3 separate regions of the Homo sapiens genome follow, and regions 2 and 3 are each linked to region 1. The links come from fine-mapping of genetic effects on gene expression. A gene starts in region 1. Each other region holds a variant in brackets. All regions are shown on one strand. Distances are between the middles of the regions.

The links.
Region 2: its variant is fine-mapped to the expression of GLO1 in testis (GTEx, PIP 0.99).
Region 3: its variant is fine-mapped to the expression of GLO1 in blood mononuclear cells (TOPMed, PIP 0.98).

What each region holds. Positions count from the first base shown.
Region 1 is chr6:38,699,632-38,707,817 of GRCh38, forward strand. GLO1 (glyoxalase I) reads right to left here and starts at 3,514. Exons shown (of 6, transcript NM_006708.3): 1 at 3,340-3,514. The coding sequence starts at 3,423. RefSeq lists enhancers at 2,656-3,248, 3,281-3,330, 3,351-3,450, 3,631-3,790.
Region 2 is chr6:37,941,699-37,949,884 of GRCh38, forward strand. All of the region lies in intron 2 of ZFAND3 (zinc finger AN1-type containing 3), which reads left to right. Among named protein-coding and RNA genes, the nearest start is that of ZFAND3, 130 kb to the left of the region's middle. The variant A/G (reference allele first, on the strand shown) is at 3,772.
Region 3 is chr6:38,676,071-38,684,256 of GRCh38, forward strand. It overlaps GLO1 (glyoxalase I), which reads right to left. Exons shown (of 6, transcript NM_006708.3): 4 at 6,738-6,805; 5 at 5,942-6,031; 6 at 1-1,313. The coding sequence ends at 1,225. Among named protein-coding and RNA genes, the nearest start is that of GLO1, 23 kb to the right of the region's middle. RefSeq lists a silencer at 5,158-5,370. The variant C/T (reference allele first, on the strand shown) is at 3,447.

The DNA of each region.
Region 1 (8,186 bases):
TCTATAAACGCCCGCTCTGGGAATGTCTGTCTTATGAGGTTGAGATAAGGACTGAGATACGCCCTCGTCTCCTGCAGTACCCTCAGGCTTACTAGGGTGGGGAAAAAACTTCACCCTAGTAAATTTGTGGTCAGACCGCTTCTCTGCTCTCGAACCCTGTTTTCTGTTGTTTAAGATGTTTATCAAGACAATACGTGCACTGCTGAACATAGACCCTTATCAGTAGTTCTGCTTTTGCCCTTTGCCTTGTGATCTTTGTTGGACCCTTATCAGTAGTTCTGCTTTTGCCCTTTGCCTTGTGATCTTTGTTAGACCCTTATTAGTAGTTCTGCTTTTTGCCCTTTGAAGCATGTGATCTTTGTACCTACTCCCTGTTCTTACACCCCCTCCCCTTTTGAAACCCTTAATAAAAACTTGCTGGTCTAAGACTCAGGTGGGCATCACAGTCCTACTGATATGTGATGTCACCCCCCGGCAGCCCAGCTGTAAAATTCCTCTCTTTGTACTCTTTATTTCTCAGCTGGCCAATACTTATGGAAAATAGAAAGAACCTACGTTGAAATATTGGGGTGGGTTCCCCCCGTATCAAAACACATTTTTGCTAAGATGTTTCCTTCATCAGAATGCCTTCCCATGTACTCTGCTGGAATCCTACCCAATCTATCAAGGCATAGGCCCATCACCACCATCTTTTTGATGTGTGCCCTGATCCCCACAGCTGAAATACAACCTTGAATTGTATCACTCTTCATAGTTTAGAGAACATAATACATGTCATTTTATCCTCATAGCAGCTCTCTGAGATATCTTTATGCTCCTTCTACAAACTGAGCCCAAGTGCCCTGGCAAGGTCACTGCAGCCAACAACAGAAGTGGGGATTCAAATGCAGGTCTTCAGGCTCCAAATACCCTGTGCATACCCCATTCCACTAATGCTACCTTTAAAAACCTCTACCTCCCAGGGTGCTCTCAGGGTGATTTATATTTCAATAGCACACTAACCCCAGGTCCATTGTATATTAGAGTTGATATAAGTTGGTGAAGGGAGGGAACCTCATCTTGTTTATCCCAGTATCCCCAAAGTACTTACCATCTTCTTTACATATAGCATAAATGTATCAAGTGATCAAACTGAATTTAATTCATTGAGGGTTTTTTTTTTTTTTTGGACAAAGTCTCACTCTGTCACCCAAGCTGGAATGCAGTGGCATGATCTCGGCTCCCTGCAACCTCCACCTCATGGGTTCAAGTGATTTTCCTGCCTCAGCCTCCCAAGTAGCTGGGATTACAGGTGCCCGCCACCATGCCCAGCTAATTTTTGTATTTTTAGTAGAGCAGAGTTTTGCCATGTTGGCCAGGCTGGTCTCGAACTGCTAACCTCAGGTGATCTGCCCACCTCGCTCTCCCAAAGTGCTGGGATTACAGGCATGAGCCACTGCACCCAGCCTTCATTGAGGTTTTTTATTTTCCTTTATGGCAAATTCCAAAATTACTGCTGGAGTCAGCACCCCAGAAGCAGAACAGGGTGGAGGTTGGAAGTGTGGGGTCCTCCCTGGGCAAATCACTCAACACCTCTATGTGCCTGAGTGTCCTTATTTGTAAAATGAAGATCATAATTATGCCTTCTTCATAGGGTTGTTGTTAGGATTAAATTAAACAATGTACTTAAAATACCAAGCCAGGGCCTGGCACACTCAATATATACCAGCTATTATTATGTATTCCATTTTATGTCTCCCATGGCCAAAAATTACTGATCTCAAAATTAATTACTCCGAATCATCAAGAGAAATTTAGATACTGTGGAATGTAAATTAAGCTGCAAGGACATTTACTTAGTATATTTTATAAAGATATCCCTGGAATCCTTTTTATTTGAAAACCCCATTACATAAAACCCCTAGTTATCTGGGAAAATACTTTACACTGAGTGACTCAATTTACATTATATGAAAAAACCAGGTATTAATATTAAGGGATATACAAGTGAGATGGGCATGACGGAATTTTTTTACCTTCCCCCTTAATTTTGCAATGACTAACATTTTTCCTAAGCCAAGTACCAGGTGCTAGTCAAAAGTTTTAGCAATGAGATGTGTCTGACTCTTTGCCCTGAAGGTAAAGAACAAGCAGGGACCAGAGTCATGGACCACTTATCTACCCCTTTTAAAGGTCTGCACGAAGCACATATTCAATCTTCAAGGAATTTACAAATGATGTAGTCAAATAAATAAATACAAAGGTGTTTACAGACACTGATGACTTCACTGGAATAAACAGCGGTTACTGTGCCTGAATTTTTTTTTTTTTTTTTTTTTAGACAGAGTCTCACTCTGTCGCCCAGGCTGGAGTGCAGTGGCACGATCTCAGCTCACTGCAAGCTCCGCCTCCCGGGTTCATGCCATTCTCCTGCCTCAGCCTCCCGAGTAGCTGGGACTACAGGCACCCGCCACCACGCCCAGCTCATTTTTTTGTATTTTTAGTAGAGACGGGGTTTCACCGTGTTAGGATGGTCTCTACCTCTTGACCTCGTGATCCGCCCGCCTTGGCCTCCCAAAGTGCTGGGATTACAGGCGTGAGCCACCGCGCCCGCCAACTGTGTCTGATCTTAACAAGGCAACCGAAACACCACACCTGAGTGAGTTACACTGATTCTTACCCAGTAAAGACATGTTCGGTAAGTGAAAGCCTTTGTATGCAACAGGTCATTTCTCTTACTGGGTCATTACTGTAAAACGAGAGGGTAAGAGAAGGAATTTCTAAGATTCCTTTCAGATCCAAACTCTATGATTCTGTAATCTCTCCTGGGCCCCACGAAGATGAGGAAGGCAAGAAGGGCTGTTGTGACCCACAGCAAAGGCCAAGCAAGCAAAAGTGAAATTCTGGGCGCGGTTAAACTTAGAGCGATCAAATTAGTTTGCAGGAGTTAAGACTGCAGTCAGGGTGGTAAGGAAAAACGAGGCTGGGCAGGACTGGTACAGGACAGGCATCTTTGAACCTATTTCTGGGAGTTCTGAAACTACTGTTCTCGTGGGCCTTGGCGACTGATTTGGGAAAGCTGACCCTGGGTTGGCCTGGCTTCCAGCCACCGTCGCAACATAAACAAGCCAATTCAAAACAGGGTCGCAGTCTTTGAAACTAGCTGAGGCAACAGATCCCCTCCACACTTCGCGGGCCCCACGATCGCCCCATCAAACACCATTATCCCTCTTCCCATCACACTCCCGTCCGCCCGAGGCCGGCGGACCTGCAGCGGCGGCGGGATGGGGTTGGATAGAATGCGGCCCGGTCCCGGCCCAGCGGAGCTGGGGGAGCCGTTCCCTTCGGTCCTGTGCCCACCTTGGTACTGGGGTCCGCGTCGGAGCAGCAACTGAGGGCGGCCTCGTCCGTGAGGCCGCCGGACGGGGGCTGCGGTTCTGCCATGGCTGCGCTGCAGTATCACAGACGACGGGACCCAAGGAACGGAGGAGTCACCCACACTACGCCTCGGCCCTGTGCCGCCTTAACTAGGAATGGCGCGATGGCGCCGCGGGCGGGAGACCGCTGACTTCCAGCCAATCGCTGCGCGGAGAGCAAGTTGACTCTCTGCTGATTGGGTCCCAGTGAGTCAGCGCCTCCACCCACAGGACTATGCCTCAGACTACAACTCCCAAGGAGCCTTGCGCATAAAGGAGGCAAACTCATACAAAAAAAAAAAAAAAAATGCAGGCTGGGCAGAGTGGTTTCTCTGTTACTTAATGAGCTAATTTTGTTTGTTTAACTAAAGTTTGGTAACCATTCATACCTCAGGGCTGCAATTTGGTAGAAAATTGGAATCTGATGGAAACTGAAAACTGTAAGTTGTTCTTTTAAAATTGTAAGGATTCAGAGGTTTCTCAGTTTACGCAGCGCAGAGTAATTAAAACAATTGTTGAGTCGAAAACCTATGTTCAAGTCTTGGTTCCGCTATATATTAGCGCTAGAAACTTGCAATAATTACTGACCCTCTCTGAGCTTCCTAACAGGATTTGTTGAGAATTAAATAAGTTTTCTTTTCCTTTTTCTTTTTTCTTTTCTTTCTTTCTTTCTTTTTTTTTTTTTTTTAATTTTTTTAACAGTGTCTCGCTCTGTCGCCCAGGCTGGAGTGCAGTGGTGTGCTCTCAGCTTACTGCAGTCACTGCTGCCTCGACTTCCGGGGCTCTAGCTGTCCTCTGGCCTCAGCCTCCCGATTAGCTGAGACTACAGGCTGCAAAACCAAGACCAGTTAATTTTTGTATTTTTTTGAGATGGGGGTTTCACCATGTTGCCCAGGCTGGTCTCAACTCCTGGGCTGAAGTGACCCTCCCGCCTCAGCCTCCCAAAGTGCTGGGATTACAGGTGTAGCCACTGTGCCCAGCCTAAATGAGATTTAAGTCATGGTTTGCCTACTTAGGTTCCAAATGTCCATAACTTGCAGTACTTTTTACATTAATATATATTTTGTGTTCACTGGAAGGCTTAGTCATCACTGTGTCTTCAATGATTGGCTCATAATAGTAGATGCTCATTAAATACTTCCTGTTGTTAAAAGAATAAATGGGAATGACTGGTGCTCACCTAACCAAAATGAGGTTGGGCAGGGATGTATATGGCACTAGCCACCTGGCCACCACCAAGATGTCCCCGTCTCTCATCTCAGCTTTTTTCTGCATCGCAGCTTCAGTTTGTCAGACACCAGCTCCATAAGACTAGAAATTTGGCAGCTGTTCTCTCACTAGGAGTGGGAGTAAACTCTCCCTCTGGATTTTATCCAGCCAGCCTGGATTTTATCAAATTGGAAAATCCAAGAAGGAGCTGTGATTGGCCTGGCCTAGGACCTGTGCTTACTCCTGTGATTGAAGCACTGCGATTGGCAACCTGGATTAGGACCACCTGATTGGAGTTTGGGGAGGATCTGTTAGTTCCCTAAAAGAAGAGCGATGATGTTCTTATGAGAAGGGAGGATTGCCAGGCAAACTGAACCATGGATGTCCACTGCAAAATGATAGGCAGGATAAGGATTTCAGCAGAAATGTTGTGCATACCTCATACTAACTTACTGAGGATATTTCATCAAAACACAGTCTATTAGAACTGCAGGACTTCTATATGGAACTAGACCTTAAACCTTTTAAACTCGGGAATTGGAGCAATACACAAACTCTCCATATACTGTGTGTTACCACTGAATTATTGAAAAGACCCCCAAATTGTCTTCTTTTGCATTAATTTTCTTTTTTAGATGGAGTCTTCCTCTGTCGCCCAGGCTGGAATGCAGTGGTGTGATCTTGGCTCACTGCAACCTCCACCTCCTGGGTTCAAGCGATTCTCCTGCCTGAGCCTCCCAAGTAGCTGGGATTACAGGCACCTGCCACCATGCTGGCTAATTTTTGTATTTTTAGTAGAGACACGGTTTCACCATGTTGGCCAGGCTGGTCTCAAACTCCTGACCTCAGGTGATCCGCCCACCTCGGCCTCCCAAAGTGCTGGGATTACAGGCATGAGCCACTGTTCCCAGCCCTTTTGCACTAATCTTTCTGGTGAGCTTCTCAGACTATGTGAGATATAAAGCATGTAAATGAATAGGAAGACTCAATATCATAAAATATCAATTCATTTACTAATTAATCTGTTCATGTAATGAAATTCCAATAAAAATCCCAACAGAGTCCTTTCTTTCTTTCTTTCTTTCTTTCTTTCTTTCTTTCTTTCTTTCTTTCTTTCTTTCTTTCTTCTTTCTTTATTTGTTTCTTTCTTTATTTCTTTCTTTCTTTCTTCTTTCTTTCTTTTCTTTCTTCTTTCTTTCTTTCAAGATAGGGTCTCACTCTGTTGCCCAGTGTGGAGTGCAGTGGTGCTGTCTCAGCTCACTGCAGCCTCAACCTCTCAGGCTCCAGCAATCCACCCACCCACCCACCTCAGCCTCACAAATAGCTAAGACTATAGGCATGCACCACCAAAACCAGATAATTTATTTTATTTTAGTTTTTGTAGAGACAGCATCTCACTATGTTGCCCAGGCTGGTCTTGAACTCCTGAGCTCAAGTGATCCTCGCACTTTGGCCTCCCCAAAGTGTGATTACAGGTATGAACCACTGTGCCTGGCCCAGGGGTTTTCAATTAAAATGAACAAGCAGATTCTACATTCTATTTTTAGGGCCCCAAATAGGAAAGATATACTGAATAATAATTAAGTAGGGGAACATTCTCTACCGGATAACAAGACTTTGTACAAGCTACAGTAATTAAGACAGGATGAAAAAAAAAAAAAAGACAGTATGGTAGGGAGGCTGGCATAGATCAACAAATGGAAACTGTAGTAGACCACTCTAAGATAACCCCAATGATCCCCACCTCCGGGTCTTCACAGTCTTGTCTGCTTCCCTAACCTTGAGTATGGGCTGGATTTGGTGGCTCACTTCTGATACAAAGAGCATGATAGACATGATAAAGTGTCACTTCATGTCATTTCTGAGATTAGAGAATGAAATGTTGTGATTCTTATCTTGGGAGCTCTGTCACTTTCTTTGATCTCTCACTTGGAGGGTAAGCAAGTTGTCACGTTGTGAGCAACTCTAAGGAGAGATGCATGTGGCAAGGAACCAATGTCTCTGGTCAACAGCCAGTGAAGGCCAGACACCTGCCATCAGCTACACAGTAAAATTGCAAGTGGGTCCTTTTTCAGTAGAGCTTCAAAATGACTGCTGCTTTGGCCAACCTCTTAGTCACTGTCTTGTGAGAGACCCTGATCCAGAACTACCTAGCTGGACCATTCCCAGATTCTTAAACCACAGAAACTGTGAGATAATAAATGTTTATTGTTTTCAGCTGCTAAGTTTTGGAATAAGTTGTTGTGCATTAATAGGCAACCAATATACACACATACCATGTTTGTGTCTCTGTGTGTGTGTATATATATATAAATTTGGTATGTGTTATCTTACTGCTAGTGGGGAAAAGATTATTTTTTCAATGAATGGGGTAAGGACAATTGATTATGTATGTGATAAAAAAAGATCTCTATTTCATACCATAAAGGAAAACGTAAGTCCAAGAGGATTATAGACATAAATGTGAAAAGGCAAAACTTAAAACCTTGAAGAATAAAATATTAGAAAATGCCTTTGTGAATTCATGGTAGAAATTTCTTAATGAAGGCTGGGCGCGGTGGCTCACTAGCACTTTGGAAGGCTGAGACAGGTGGATTGCCTGAGTTCAGGAGTTTGAGACCAGCCTGGGCAACACAGTGAAACCTCGTCTCTGCTAAAATTCAAAAAATTAGCCAGGCGTGGTGGCGTGTGCTTGTAGTCCCAGCTACTCGGGAGGCTGAGGCAGGAGAATTGTTTGAACCTGGGAGGCAGGGGTTGCAGTGAGCCGAGATCGTGCCACTGCACTCCAGCCTGGGTGACAGAGCAAGACTCCATCTCCAAAAAAAAAGAAAGAAAGAAAGAAAGAAGTTTCTTAATGAGATATAAAAGCACGAAGTATAAAAGAAAGCTAAAACACACCCTAAAAGGTAAAAAGTTAAACCATAGACCAGGAGAAAGTATGGGCAACACACATAGCCAACAAAGGTTCAGTATCCAGAATATGTAAAAACTGTTAGAAATCAATGAGAAAGAGACACATAACTCGATAGAAAAAAATGGCCAAAAAGAAGAATAGGCAATTTACAAAAGAGAGAATAGAAATAGCATATATTCATATGAAAAATTGCTCCAAGTCTGCCCTACGTAGTGAAACCCCACCTCTACTAAAAGTACAAAAATTAGCCAGGTGTGGTGGCACATGCCTGTAATCCCAGCTACTTAGGAGGCTAAGGTAGGAGAATCACTTGAACCTGGGAGGTGGAGGTTGCAGTGAGGTGAGATCACGTTACTTGGGCGACAGAATGAGACCCTGTCTCAAAAAAAGGAAAGAAAGGAAAGGAAGGGAGGAAAGAAAGGAAAGGAAGGGAGGAAAGAAAGGAAAGGAAGGGAGGAAAGAAAGAAAGAGGAAGGAAGGAAGGAGGGAGGGAGGGAAGGAAGGAAGGAAGAAAGAGAGAGAGAAAGAAAGAAAGGAAGAAAGAAAGAAAGAAGGAAAGAAAGAAAGAAAGAAAGAAAGAAAGAAAGAAAGAAAGAAAGAAAGAAAGAGAGAGAGTCCGGGAGTGGGGGCTCACGCCTGTAATCCCAGCAGTTTGGGAGGCTGAGGCA
Region 2 (8,186 bases), 760 kb before region 1:
TTGTCAGTGTGAAAGCAAAGATGAATTTCGTATTTAGACTGTGCAACCTGCAGATTTCATTTGTTAAACCTTCCAGTTGGTACTCCCGTTCTCTCATACATGTGTGCATAATAATAGTATGGAAAAAAACTCCTGTTTTGTTGTATCCATATTTATCAGTTTGGTTGAGTTATGGAAAAGCCTGTCCTTTGCTTTGTGTATTTGCTCATTTGGAAACCTTGTATAGTTTATAGAGACACTAGTGATTTGTTCCCCAGCTTCCCTGTGGGTTTTGTTCCATATTACAATCTAATTCCACCTCTCTGTCCCATACTCCTGAGCTGTTAATTTGTACATTTCGATGCCGTTTGTTTCATCCTGTGTTTTTTAATCCAAACTGAATGTAATGGGCTGTGTGCTTTAGGGACCTGGCTTTGCCTTGCCAATTAGAACAAAGTGGTTACTGAGTAAGAGTATGTTTTAAATAAAACATGGCACCTCTGAATGGTGCTGATACTCATTTGGGAATAAAAGAGATGGTTTTAACCCTTTGACTCACAAAGAAGAGCCATTATAAAAGATCATATATATATATTTTTTTTTCTTTGAAAAGAAGGGTAAAGTTTACCTCCATAAAATGTGGTTTTACAAGTTTCTTAAGGTAACTAAATAAATTTAAAAGTTTGTCATTAAAAATGTACTTTTTTCCTTCATGATCATTTGAGACATGTTAGCAAAATTCTGTAAATTTATGAATATTGAACCAATGGCTGCTGCTGAATTTTGAATTTGTTCATGTTTAGGAAGGTGAGGGTATATGAAACCAATAGATATGTCAGCCTCTTTTTATTTTTATAATATATCAAGCCAAGTTTTCAATTTAGTGGTGACACTCCTTCCCCCAGAGATACTTAAAAATTATGAAGGTGAATGTAAGCTTCTACAATCTTGTGGGAATATTATTTTCAGATAATTGAATTTTGAGCCATCAATGACTTAAGGCTATTTGGAAGTTTAGCTGCACTTTCACCAAATATTTATAGCACAGATGTTTCTGAATAGACCATAGGCTAATAGTTTACTAATTCACGTCATAGAGAGACACTTCATCAGTTACTTCTGTTATTGTATTTGCATCTACCCTAAAAATAGAGTTCTCTTTTTAGCTGATATAGCAGATAAACTGTAATTCATCATTGGAATAAGGAAAACATAAAACTTACTTTGAAGAAAAAGTGGGACTGTATCAAAAACTTTGAAATAAAGACATCCAAGGGAAAGCTAGACGTAGAAAGACTTGGTGACAGGTTTAGACAACATTATAGCATGTATTAACCTATGCAAACAAGAGAGAACAAAAGGAATGCATTTCTGTAGAACAGTTCAATTAAAAAGTATGTAGGAGTATCATGTTGAAAAAAAAGGTTTCTAGAAAAATGATGTCTGTAGTAGAGGAGGCCAGTTAATTGGACTAAGTGAAACTAAACATAGGCATTTCTAACATTGTACTGGGAAAGTCTTGCAAGCCCTACTGCTGGTTTGAAGAGACGATCATTGTAACAGTATTACTAAATGCCCTGTACTTCAGATTTGAAGATTAACCTCCATATTGCTAGTACTTTAAATTGTTCAGTTTTCTGAGTAAAGATATTAAAGTTTAAATGTGCTTCCATCTTCTCCTCAACACTGTTTTAACCTGTAGCTAAACTGACAGTCCAGGAGATTGAATTTTGTTTAAAAATGTTTGATATCTGTAGAGAACACTGTATTTTCCAGCTTTGCATAAAGTGACAGTGTTTTCCTTAACTCATATGTTTTAGGATCCAGTAGCTGTTAATTTCCATGCCTGAAGCACAAATTAATGTCAGGAAATCTTTCTCAAAAATTATTTTCATGCAGGTCCCAGGCTTCCAATGGCAACTGAAAGCTGGGTTATTCATTTCTCCTATACCTGTTACTCAGTGTGCATCATAAGTATTTGTAAACACTGGTTTTGCTTTTAGGAACTCTAGAAGTGCGAATCCCATTAATCATGTGATATTAGTAAATGATGATCATAGAATATTTGAGTGGAAAGAATTTTAGAGCCCTTTTCTTACCAAAACACTGGTACTCAGTCCAAATGTCTACTGAATTAATGAGTTTCAAAGTAAACTGAAGTGGTGAGGGTAAAGTGGCTTATTATTTCATCTTTTATTTGCATACTTCAACCTCAGTTTCCTTTCTCCTTCCAGTGTTACATGCTATATTAGTAATCTTGAAGATGAGACTAGAAATAAATCTATAACAAAGTTGCAACAACCCTTTAATTTGTAGATACTGCTTTAGGATTGTATGCCTTTTTCTGTTTACTATCTCTTAATTCAGGTGCTGTTAGTCTTGCAGGTAAACATTCATTGTTCTGTAGAGTTGATACAGTTGTCAAATTTTTGTGTATTTGTGTGTATGTGGGTTTATGCACATGCATACAGTTATTTAGATGTGTTGATTATAATTTTTAATTAAAATTTTTATTTAAATATGACAGTTGGATTTTATATGAGATTTTATACCATATAGCAATTACAAGAAGAACTAAAACGTCCAAAAACACTATCTGCATCATTAGTACCTTAAAGAAATTTCCCCAAACTTGATGAAAATCTTTATTATAGATTTTTAAAAAACCCATGATAAAGTGTTTCATGTTCTAAGATACATACTCTGTGGAAATGGATCTTTTTTATAGTGTCCCTCTATCAAGTAGCCTGGGTTTATAAAATATCACAGAGACAAAATTCTTTTCTCAAAATCCCTACATGGCCCTACAAGAGGAGGAGCCTAAAAAAAGAAAAGAGAAAAAACTGTGTGTATGCTTCCCTTAGGCCAAAATTTGTCTTCATTGAATGGGAAAGGCAAAACTACTAAATCGGTTTTTCTTTTGTGATGACTGAGGTCTTGTGTTTTGACCTACAGCGTATATCACGTGGAGAAAGGTGCTTCATATAACTTGGGTAGCAATTTGAGAACTTAAGTAATGACAATACTAAGTATTTAATATTTTTTCTTTTGGGCTGATACCAGTGGGCTGGGGGAGGTCCCTAAATGCCAGTGGGACATCAACTCTGATCAATGGTCAGGCTCTTGACAGTGTCTTCAGTAGGAATTCAAGGATGAGTTGGAAAATAGTGAAATGTACTAAGATTTATTGCAAAATGAAAAGTACATGCTCAAGAAAGGGGAGTGCGAGCATACTCCAGACAGGGTTTGGCTTCTATCTGTATGGGTTTCTTTAATCAAGGGGTGGAGTATTCATGAAGATTTCTGGAAAAAGGTGAAAATTTCTCAACTTTAGTGCCACCCATTTTTACACCAGTATGGGTGCTCCCGGAACTGTCTTGGCATTGGTGGGTGTGATTTAGTATGTTAATGAGCATATAATGAGGTCCTAGGTGAAACCTAGGTCAAATCCAGTGCCATGTTGGGTCCACTTCGTCTTAGCTAGCTTAACCCACACTCTGCTTTTCAGGGTCTTCTTGGCTCCTAGCTTATGTATGTATTTCAACAGTTTCCTTTTTGCTAGTCATGTGAAACTGCTGCCTGGAATTTTCTTTTCCCCTTCAACCACCCTGTATTATTCCTGTCTCAGGGCTTGGGGGAAACTATATGGTATTCTGGAAAAATACCACGTGGAGGCAGATAATTTTGGACAATGGGAAATTTTGCATTGGAAGATCATTGACATAGTCTTTTTTTCAAGACAGAGTCTCGCTCTGTCTCCCAGGGTGGATTGCAGTGGTGCAGTCTTGGCTC[A/G]CTGCAACCTCTGCCTCTCCGGTTCAAACAGTTCTCCTGCTTCAGCCTCCCTGCACCACCATGCCCAGCTAATTTTTGTATTTTTAGTAGAGATGAGGTTTTGCCATGTTGGCTAGTCTAGTCTCGAACTCCTGAACTCCAGTGATCCACCTGCCTTGGCCTCCCAAAGTGTTAGGATTATAGGTGTGAGCCATGGCACCCGGCCGACATAGTCTTATTTTAGTTATCAGTGGTAATTTATTTTTGGACACACCATATGGTTTAATCTTTATAAAGCAAAAATGAATGTCTTGTCTAAAACACTGTTTTATATAGTTGTCATATAAAATACCTGACTTTGTTTTAGCAGACTTTTTCCTTTTTTGGTGTCAATACTCTGAGTTTATGAAAAGCACAGCTCTTGCTTGAGTGCTTATCAGACACCTGGATACCTGAGGCACTGCTGGTCACCACTTCTTGTTAAAATTTGGTCAGTGATTCTAGTTGCATTATAAATTAAAATTCAGAGAAACAACCCCACCCTAACATCAGAGTGGTGTTTTTGGTGTCTTAAAGGGTTGGTGTGGTTTGTTTAGTGGCTCCATTGAAAGGCTGCCTAGGACTTCTGTCTGAATTTTAGATGGACATAAATACAGGGTATTCATTGTGGAGGTTCAGAGTGAGAGAATAATGGGGAATGTAAAAGCATACAAGTCTGTTTTTTAAAAACTGCAACCAAGGGAACCTTTTCAAAGTACACTGTAAAGGTCAAGTGTCTTGTATTTCCTACCTGATCTCTATGTGACTGAATGGAGGCTATTTCACTTCTGATTTATAAGATACTTACCATGACTCAAGGTTTTGTGAACATCTGACATTATTAGCGCTTTTGTCTTTTGCATGGCTCCACCCTTAAGAAGGAAAACACAGACCTAGTTTACATTTAGAGAAGCCCTTCCCTATAGGCCTTTGTCGCACAGCTCAAAAGAGCAACAACCTTAGAAAAGTAATTGGGTTTTTCAAAACACAAAATTACAATTTTTCCCCCCATTCCTTCATGCACACTGTAAAGTTACCAGGATACCCTTTCTCAATAGTTTAAAATTGTGACCTATTTTTTTCCCCCTTTTTGGTGTCCTGATCAGGGTTGGGGGAGAGGGAAGCATTAATTTTTTTACTAATTTCCCTTGAATTCACCAGTGCCTTAATTTCTCACAGCATTATCAAATAATTGATGTTTATGCTGTTTTGGAAACTGGCTTTTAACAAGTGTTTTTGCTATAGCGTGAATGAACCTTGACAACATTATGCTAAGTGAAATAAGCCAGTCACAAAAAGAACAAATACTATTTATTCTGCTTACGTGACGTACCTACAGTAGTCATATTCATAGAGACAAATAGAATGGTGGTTTCCAGGGGCTAGAGGGTGGGGGAACTGGAGAGTTGTTTAATGGATAAAGAAAGTCAATTTGGGAAGATGAAAAAAAGCTCTGGAGATGGATGTTAAAGCTCTGGAGATGGATGTTAGTGGCAGTAGTTGCACAACAACGTGAATGTACTTAATGCCACTGGAACTGTACGATTAAAAACGGTTAAGATGGTAAATTTTATGTTATGTGCACCTAACCCCAGTTAAAGATAATGATTAAAATAGTGTTTACTTTTGAGTACAGTTTTGTTCTTTACACTTGCCAAAATCTTTCTTTGTTCAAATTTCTTTTAAAAATCTGTTAACAGGAGGTTAAGTGTGAATATTTCATCTTGTTCTGTGACAGTAAACTAGTCATCTATAGTAGAGAGCAGAAAATAAAAATATTTCCAGAAATAAAACTGAGATTTAAAAACAATTTAATTTTTTTCCTTTTCATATTTATCTGTGTAGATGATGCCATAACAGGCATAATTTATATTATTTATATGATTAAATTAAAAAGTTGTGGTGGCTTAGATTTTGGACAAGCTACTTTACCTGAAATATTAGTTTCCTCATTTGTCAAATTGGGGGTTACTATACCTCCTTCCCTGGGAATAAAATTAGATGATATAGATGAAATCTCTTTAAAGGTATTTTATTAAAGTACTACATGTATGTAGTTTGAAAAGTCAAAATATTACATGTAACAAAATGCCCTGCCCTTTCTACTCCAAGTTTCCCCACATGCAGTGATTAAGAGGAAACAATGACTCTGAATTCTGTCTGCTGTTTCATCTAAATTTATACTTCTCCATATTTATGATTAATATACATATATTGCTGACTTTTTGATTTATCAGTTGTACACATTTTTTTTTTACCTTGTTGTGATATATAAAGCCTTTGCTTTCTTATACCACCCTCTCCTATTCCCCCCAACATATTTGTAGTGAAGTTTTGGTTAAATCTTCAGTATTTACTTTTTTATGGGTATATAAATATTATGACATTGGAGCATTTAGCTTAGTATTTCCTTTCTTTTTTTCCCTTCCTGGAGGATTTTCCAGAGATCTTTCTGTTACTTCTATTTTTATTCCATTGTGCTCAAGAAACATTTTGTATGACCCTCATTTATTTATTGAGACTTGTTTTATGACAAAATACGTCTTGGAAAATGTTTTGTTTATATTTGAAAAGAAAGTGCATTCTGCTGTTGTTGAGTAGTGTGTTCTTCAAGTGTCAGTTAGGTCAGGTTGGTTGACAGTGTTCAAGTTTCCATGTCTGTTGATTTTTTGCTTACTTGTTCTGTCAGTAACAGAGAGGGATAGTGAAATATCTGAATACAATCATGGATTAAAGCAGTTTTTTCTTATATTTGTATCATATTTAGCTTCATGTGTTTTGAAGCTGTCTTACTAGGTACATAAATATTTAGCATTTTTACATCTTTATAAATTGACCCCTTCATCATTATGAAATGATCTTTTTAATTGCAGATAATGTTATTTGTTGTGAAATTTACCTTGAGATTAATTTAGCCATGCTAGTTTTCTTTTGGTTAATGTTCACCTGGCATAGTTTTTTTCTTTTTGTTTTCTTTCCAACTTTTGTTTTTAGACTTAGGGGGCACATGGGCACATTTGTTACATGGGTAAATTATGTGTCATGGGGGTTTGGCGTACAGATTAGTCACCCAGGTGATAAGCATAGTACCCAATAAATAGTTTTTTGATCCTCACCCTCCTTCCATCCTCCACCCCTAAGTAGGCCTGCGTATCTATATTTGCCTTGTATCCATGTGTACTTAATGTTTAGCTTCCACTTATAAGTGAGAACATGTGGTATTTCGTTTTCTGTTCCTGTATGTGTTTGCTAAGGATGACTTCCAGCTCCATCCATGTTCCTGCAGAGGACATGATCTTGTTCTTTTTTATGGCTGCATAGTATTCTGTGGTGTTGTCTGTACCACATTTTCTTTATCCAGCCTATCATTCTTGGGCATTTAGGTTGATTCCATGTCTTTGCTATTATGAATAGTGCTGCAATGAACATATATGTGCATGTGTCTTTATAATAGAATGATTTACACTCCTTTGGGTATTTATATTCCTTTAGGTATACAAACTCAGTAATAGATTGCTGGGTCAAATTGTAGTTCTTTGAGAAATCTCCAAACTGCTTTCTTCAGTGGCGGTACTAATTTACTTTCCCACCAGCAGTGTATAAGCATTCTCTTTTCTCTGCACCCTCACCAGCATCTGCTGTTTTTTGACTTTTTAATAATGTTCTGACTGGTGTGAGATGATATCTCATTGTTGCTTTGATTTGCATTTCTCTAATGATTATTGACTTTGAGCATTTTTTCATGTTTGTTGGCCACATATTTGTCTTTTGAGAAGTGTCTGTTCATGTCCTTTGCCCATTTTTTAATGGGGTTATGTGGTTGTTGTTAATTTCAGTTCTTATTGTGTGGGGAAAACTCTGTGTTTTTCCTCTACTCTCACACCACAGCAGTCATTTATGCAAAGAAAACTCCTGTGACCAAATGTGTGTGGGGGGGTCTCTCCCCACCACCAAGCAGTGGACACCAGCCAGGTATCCTCCAGTTCAATTCTGACACTATCTACCTGGAGGTGTAGTGCCAGATCCCACAGGTTGAGGGCTCCTTCCCCAAGACTGCTCCCTCCTTTCCCCACCAGTTGCAAGCCCAGGTTTCCGGAACTTCTGACACACACATCAAGTTGAGATTCCCACAACCCCCTCTTTGGGTTCGATTAATTTGTTGGGGCTGTTCACAGAACTCAGAGAAACACGTTTACTAAGAAGGATATTTTAAAGGATACAGATAAATAGCCAGATAAAGAGGTACATAGGGTGAGGTCTGGAAAGGTCCCAAGCACTGGAGCTTCTGACCCTGTGGAGATGGGGTGCACGACCCTCCCTGTACATGGAAGAGTTCTTCTTCACCTTCCTCTTGCCCTATACATGTTCAGCTATCTGGAAGCTTACTGAACCCTCTC
Region 3 (8,186 bases), 24 kb before region 1:
CCTTTCCAAAGGTCTTCCACTAGAGTCTAGAGAAATCTAAATATAGTCATCCACAAACTGGATGTTTTTATTTTCTGAGCCATTAGAGATTTTCAAAATCACTTTGATTTTTAAAAACTCATCAAATGTGAATCATGGCGGGGAAGACCACTGAGCTGATTTCTGATAACTAAGTTATCACTGAACATAATTTATCATATATGGCTACTGGCATCATGAAGACCTTGGGATAGGGAAGACTCTTTATGAGAAATATAAACATCACTTGTGTAGGAATCACCAGGTGTCCCTAGAGCAGTTTTGTACTAAAGACTTCTAGTGTTTACTCCCTCACCACGGTACTCCAGCCCAAGAGCCAAGAGCACAATGGTCAAACTCACTGAAGGTTTTTACAACAGGAAACCAGTGGAGGTATTGTGAGGTACTACAACTTTGAGGCACAATCTAAATACTAAAAATGATTATGAAATCTTGAGTTGAGCTGATTGATGCCCTCTTAAATCCATTAATAATCCATGAAAGTGATTTCACATGCCTAGCCTGCTTTCTTTCTCACATGACAGCTGGGAGTATTAAATGAGATAAAGTTGCAGCCTAGCCCAGTGTCTGGGTACCATATCATTTCCTTCCTCCTCCCCTTTCCCAAATAAATAAGGTTAGTCCTTGAACTTTAAATGTACTTTATAATAAGAAGAAATCACTTTTTCTATCAGTATCCTTGTCAGCATGATTTGAATTGCTCTCAAGAGTACCTACTCTTTTGTAAAATAAACACTTTGTACTTTACTGAAAGAACACTAGTGTTCTTTCCTTTCCGTTGTGAAAAAAGTTGTTTCTGAGGAATTGAAACCCCAGAAGATAACTACAACAAAAACATGTTAATTTTTTTTTAAAAATGATGATTCAAAGGCAGATTTGAAGGGAAGTAATATTTAGGTGGCAGAAGAAGGCAAATGCAGCCTCTGAAGGGAACTGTTCTAATTATTACCTAAAAAATAAAGTTACACAACTATATTCAAGGACATGAGATAAAGCACTGCTTGAAAACCAGAATGACTGAACAGTTAGGTGAAAAGGAACAGCTGAAATAGGAAGGGGAAATGGACTGAAGAATAATTTGAATCGGGACAGTGATCCATCAGTCCTAGATGCTTCTGGTATGTAAATATCTTGAATCACATTGTTTCCTTTCTTCTGAAATCTCAAAGGAGAATTCTCACAGCACTACATTAAGGTTGCCATTTTGTTAGGATTCAAAATTTCAATCCAGTAGCCATCAGGATCTTGAATAAATGCCAGGCCTTTCATTTTACCTGTAAAATGAAAATTTTCATTATTGAAAAGACTAAAAAAGAAAACACCATAAAAATGTTTTTCTTTCTTTGAGACAAGGTCTTGCTCTGAATGTCAGGCTGGAGTGCATGGGATGATCATGGCCCAAGGCAGGCTTGACCTCCTGAGCTCAGCCTGCCAAGTAGCTGGGGCGACAGGCACGCACCACCTTGCCTGGCTAATTTTTTGATTTTGTAGAGGCGGGATCTCAATGTACTGCCCAGGCTGCTATCAAACTCCTGGCCTCAAGCAATCCTCCTGCCTTGCCTCCCAAAGTGGTGGGATTACAAGCACAAACCACTGCACCTGGCCTTAAAAACTTTTATTAATTAAAGATTTACTTTGCATTTTAATGAAGTACATTATTTTGTTTACAGTTTTAAATTTTAAAAATTCTTATTGTCAGAAAAGTATGAAAAGTCATACTTTTCATAATGACTAAAATGTTATCTTGCACACATTGCAAATACCAGCCCTCCTGAAATAAACTGTGGGACTGGCTGCATCTTTTAGGTATCAGGCATTTGCCTCACCTTCATGATACCACACTACCAGTTCAGTAGTTACAGAAATTGTCTTATTTTAAAGAAGAAAAAGAAAATAGGGAGGTGCTGAAGGGAGCTGGTAGCATGGCTTACCCCCACAACCAAAAGACCCAGATGCTTGGGTCATACAAACCCTTTTAAATACTATCCTAGGCAACCCAAGCTCTGCGAGAGTCTTTCTCCCAGGAATTCAAAACTGAGATTGAGAGTCTAGTATGTCAGAGCTGTTTGCTTAAATGGAAAAATATGACCTCAGAAATTTATTTGGGGACCATTATGTTGAATTGGTTTGACTCTTATCTCTGCCTCCTTTCTCCAAGATCAATCCTAGAGGAACATAGATGGAAAATGCAGGAAAAAGAAAGAAAGAGAGAAAGAGAAAGAGAAAGAGAAAGAGAGAAAGAGAGAAGGAAGGAAGGAGGGAGGGAGAGAGAGGAAGGAAGGAAGGAAGGAAAAGAAAAGGAAAAGAAAAGAAAAGAAAAGAAAAGGAAAGAAAGAAAGAAACCCGGCTGGTGACAGCTGGGGAGAATGGGTGAGGATGGGGCCGGGTGACTGTTTTAACTTGGGCTGTGTGGGAGGTGGTAGTTCTGGCCTGGACCAGAAGGCAGTGCATAATGGCTGCGAGAGAACAGAGTTTTGCTCTTGCTCCTCCCTCACTGCTGTGTGCATCGGCACCTGCCCTCTCGCTTGTTCAGATGTCCTTACCAGTAAACAAGGGCAGTGCAGGAGCCTTGTGCTTGTGAGAAACTGAGAAAAACTGGTAGGGCCGAATGATCTCCCCAGCCCTCTCTCCACGCCCAGGGCTAGGGAATAACACTATCGGAAGTGTCTCCTACTAATACTCTTCCCTGAGGGATGAAGTGGGAAGATCCAACCTGAAGAGGTGTTTTGTGGAAGGTGAAATAAATTTAAGTCTCATTTCTAGGTGCCTAGGAATCTCTGGCCTAGGCTTATCCAGCCCATTGTCCTGAGATCATGTGGGTTGTTAAGGACAGGGATCTGGCCATTCTCCTATTCACACTGCTTGATGTGTTAGAATAGCGAACAGTTGCAGGGGAAAAAAGCTCAGAGGCAAAAAATAATAATTTGAGAAACATAACCATAAAACACCCCCAAAGCAATGGACTGTAGATTCAAACAGAAGAAATATTAGAATAATGGACCAAGAGCTATTTTTGTTTTTTTTCTGGAGACAGGGTCTTGCTCTGTCGTTTATACTGAAATGAAGTACAGTGGATCATAGCTCACTGCAGCCTCCAACTCCTGGGCCCAAGCAATCCTCCCACCTCAGCCTCCCGAGTAGCTAGGCATACAGACTACAGGCATGTGCCACCATGCCCAGATAATTTAAAAAAAAACCTTTTTGTAGAAACAAGGTCTTCCTATGTCACCCAGGCTGGAATGCAATGGCACAATCATAGCTCACTGCAGCCTTGAACTGCTGGCCTCAAGTGATCCTCCCGAACCTCCCAATCCTCTGCCTCGGCCTCCCAAAGTGCTGCAATTACAGGCATGAGCCACCATGCCCAGACCCAAGGACTATTTAGACATGTAAAAGTAATGACCGGC[C/T]GGGTGTGGTGGTTCACATCTGTAATCCCAATACTTTGGGAGGCTGAGGCAGAAGGATCACTTGAGGCCAGGAGTTTGAGACCAGCCTGAGATACATAGTAAGACCCTGTCTCTACAAAAAATAAAAAATTAGCCATACATGGTGGCATTTGCCTGTAGTCCCAGCTACTCAGGAGGCTGAGGTGGATTATTGTTTGATCCCAGGAGTTTGAGGTTGCAGTGAGCTATGATCACACCACTGCACTCTAGCCTGGGCAACAGAGCAAGACTCTGTCTCAAAAAAAAAAAAAAGTAATAAACAATATGAAATATTACCAATATGAAAAAAAGAACAAGAACATATTAAGCAAACTAAGCGAAAATTAGAGATCAAAATTATAACAGGTGTTTAAGAACAAAATAGATGAATTAAATATCAGAACAGATACATTTGGGAGAAAATTAGCTAATTGGTATTCCAGTTTGAGGAAATCTCCCAGAATGCAGGCAGTGACAAAGAAATAATATAAAAAGCTTCTAGAATAAAACAGAAGAATATACAAAGGAACATGAATTGACAGATTTTTCAACAGCAACATCATATGCAAAAAGAAAATAGAAGAGTATTTTCAAGACTGAAGGAAATTAAACCTAGGCTTTTCCATAAAACTGTCCTTCAGACATAAAGGCATCATCCTCAGTTACACAGAATCTCAAAAGTTTTGCCTTAAAAACCCTTTAAAGGGCTGGGTGCGGTGGCTCATAGCTGTAATCCCAGCACTTTGGGAGGCTGAGGCAGGCGGATCACCTGAGGTTGGGATTTTGAGACCAGCCTGACCAACATGGAGAAACCCCGTCTCTACTAAAAATACAAAATTAGCCAGGCACGGTGGTGCATGCCTGTAATCCCAGCTACTCGGGAGGCTGAGGCAAGAGAATCACTTGAACCCAGGAGGCAGAGGTTGCGGTGAGCCAAGACCGTGCCATTGCACTCCAACCTGGGCAACAAGAGCGAAACTCCGTCTCAAAAAACAAAAACAAAACCCCTTTAAAGACCATTTTGGTTGAGGTATTTAAATAAAAGAACAGAAAAATCCAAAAGATGCTAAAAAGGCTGGGCATAGTGGCTCACGCCTGTAATCCCAGTGCTTTGGGAGGCCAAGGTGAAAGAATCGCTTGAGCTCAGGAGTTTGAGACAAACCTGGGCAACATAGCAGGAACTCATCTCTACAAAAAAATAAAACAATTAGCTGGGTGTGGTGGCATGTGCCTGTGGTCCTAGCTACTTAGGAGGAGGCTGAGGCAGAGGATTGTTTGAGCCCAGGAGTTTCAAGGCTATAGTGAGCTATGACAGTGCCATTGCAGCACCCCAGCCTGGATGAGAGTGAGATCCTGTCTCAAAGGAGACACTACAAGAGATATATGAAGAAAAAGTGATCAAACACCGTGATATATTTATTATTATCTTTAAAAAATAAAATCAATACTATCCCACTCTAGGTAATAGTGACACAATGAGGACAGAGTGAAGCAAATTCCTTTCTTATTGGGGAGAAGATTTGGATATTAAATATATATATATTTTTGTGACGGAGTCTCACTCTGTCGCCCAGGCTGGAGTGCAGTGGTGCGATCTTGGCTCACTGCAACCTCCACCTCCCAGGTTCAAGCAATTCTCCTGCCTCAGCCTCCTGAGTAGGCGGACTATAGGCGCCCACCACCATGCCTGGCTAATTTTTTCTATTTTTGGTAGAGACAGGGTTTCACCATGTTAGCCCAGATGGTCTGGATCTCCTGACCTCGTGATCCGCCCGCCTTGGCCTCCCAAAGTGTTGGGATGACAGGTGTGAGCCACCACGCCCAGCACTGGATATTAAGTATTTTAATTTTTTTAAAAAAGGATTGAAATTAAACAGTGAAATATTTCAAATGTTTAGATTGAGACTCTGAAATATTTAATATTTCAATTTTAATTTGAAATAGTTCAGAAAGAGATCTAAGTAAAATAATAACAATACATGTAAACCCAGCAAAATCCATACGTAGGCTATTTCAAAAAACCTACCTAAAACTTAAGGACATACAAAGGTTATAAAAGATGAAAAAGAAATACCATGTGATTATAAACTAAAGAGAGCTGGTGTCATTATATGAGCATCAGATAAAATGGACTTTAAGGAACTTATTTTTGGGCGGAAAGATATACACTGAAATAGTGAAAGCTGGTGGCCAATGAAAGAAAGTGGTGGGGTCGGGCAGTGGGAGAGGAAGCGTAGGGTTTTGATGGCTGTCCAGGTCCTGTGTCTAGTGCCTTGGAAAGCCACCCTAGTTGCTGTCTTTCAGTTCCCTAAAATACCCAGATATTCTTCCAATCATTTCTCTTTTTTAAAACTCTGGTTGAAGTGGAGACTTCTGTTACTTGTAGCCAAAAGGGTTTTACTACAACAGTGGCCTCTGTAGGTGGTTAGTAAATATCAACTAAAGACAGGCCTGAACACAGTAAGTAGTAGACTCACCATCATCAGGTTTCTTCACAAATTTGACTCCCAGTTCTTCAAACCTTTTACAAGCACTGTATACATCAGGAACAGCAATTCCAATATGACCTTACGTGATACCCCCCGAAAAAAGCAGAGAGAAGGAAGAAATAATTATAACAGGGTGTCCAAGTACCACAAGTAGATTCCAAAACTTGTTTATTTCAAAACATAAGGCACTTGGGAACAGACTTAGGTAGGTTCAAAATCTATAATACATTAAAGAACAAATATAGATCTAATGGGCTGGGTATAAGTAGTTAATTAGTTGCCTTGAATTATAAATTATTTAAAATTAATCAATATCAGCTCATATACAGTCTAATCAGTTAAGAATAATCGACACCAAAAAACAGTAATCATTTACTAATACTTAATAGGTTTGTGGTTGGCATTGACTATAGCAGCCAGCTGAAGCCTGCAATACTGTCATCTTGATTGAGAGACTGGAGATCAAGGCAGAAGTGTATGTGCTAGCAGAAACTGGGATTAGTATTAACTACAGCTTTTTTAAAAAAAAAAGTCTACTGGAAATTAATTCTGAGACTTAAAAGTAAATCATGGTGAGATGGTAAGTGTAATTTTAGATCGAGACTCTGAAATTAAACAACTCCTAAATAAGATTATTTGTGGAAAATAAAAATAATCATATCTCTAATAAATTGATCATACTTAATTAGGACATTAATGTTTTAGGTTTATTAAAATCATAATTATATACATAATACAAAATCACACAAATCTACATATATCACATAAAAACAGGCAAACTTACCGAATCCTCGAGGGTCTGAATTGCCATTGTGGTAACTCTGGGTCTCATCATCTTCAGTGCCCCAATTGCTACAAAAGGAAGGAAAACATAGCTACAATGTCCTAGGGAATAGATATTCTGAAAAGCAAGTAACATCTTTGAAATCTTACCACGTTTATATGCTACTTTACATAATTGGCCTAACCCCTGCTACAAAAATATTAAGTTTTCAACTATAGAAAGGACAAATGGCCAAAGTATGATTTTAACGAGACTAAAGAGACAGTAAATACAGGTACTGGACAAGAACAATAATAAGAATAATAATAATGCTCATTTATTGTGCTAAGTACTTTATATTTCATTTAAACCCTTAAAACAGCTCCATGGGCTAGGTGTGAACATCTCCATTCTATTGATGAAACTGCCACTTACTTGTTTAGAGTCACAGACTCATATCTAAGCCTGCCTGATTCCAAAGCTTTATTTTGAATCAAGGGACACACGAAATCACACACTCTGAAATCAATCTCTTTTAAAGTATGCAGATAAACAATGTAAAGAAATTGCCTACATTTTTAAGTGCTCAAGTTATAAAAATACCAAATTTGAATGTTAATTATTACAAAATGGTTTGAAGAATTTTTAAAGGAACACATGATATCACATTTCTGGATCCAAAATGTAGCAAAATAATAAAAGAACAAAATTTTGGATGCTGAAAGACTAATTATAGTACCTAAAAATTAGTTAGAGACAAACAGGCAAATATCTTACAATTTCAGGGTCTTATATTCTCTTATCTAAAAGACAAATGGAGGCCGGGCGTGGTGGGTCACGCCTGTAATCCCAGCACTTTGGGCGGCCGAGGCAGACAGATCACGAGGTCAGGAGATCGAGACCATCCTGGCTAACATGGTGAAACCCCGTCTCTACAAAAAATACAAAAAATTAGCTGGGCGTAGTGGCGGGCGCCTGTAGTCCCAGCTACTTGGGAGGCTGAGGCAGGAGAATGGAGTGAATCCGGGAGGCAGAGCTTGCAGTGAGCCGAGATCGCGCCACTGCACTCCAGCCTGGGCAACAGAGCAAGACTCTGTCTCAAAAAATAAATAAATAAATAAATAAAAATAAAAGACAAATGGGCCAGGCGTGGTGGCTCATGCTTATAATCCCAGCAGTCTGGGAGGCCGAGGCGGGCGGATCACTTGAGGCCAGGAGTTTGAGACCAGCCTGGGCAACATAGTGAGACCTTGCCTCTATGCCTCTACCAAAAACAAACAAACAAAAACTAGCTGGGTGTGGTGGCACACATGTGTAGTCCAAGGTGCTCAGGAGGCTGAGGCAGGAAGACTACCTAGAAGTTAGAGGCTTCAGAGAGCCTGTCTCTAAAAAAAACACATCTCATTTGCCCAAGAACAATACAAAGATCAAAAGATGCATGAAAAACACTTCAATATATTATTAAAAATG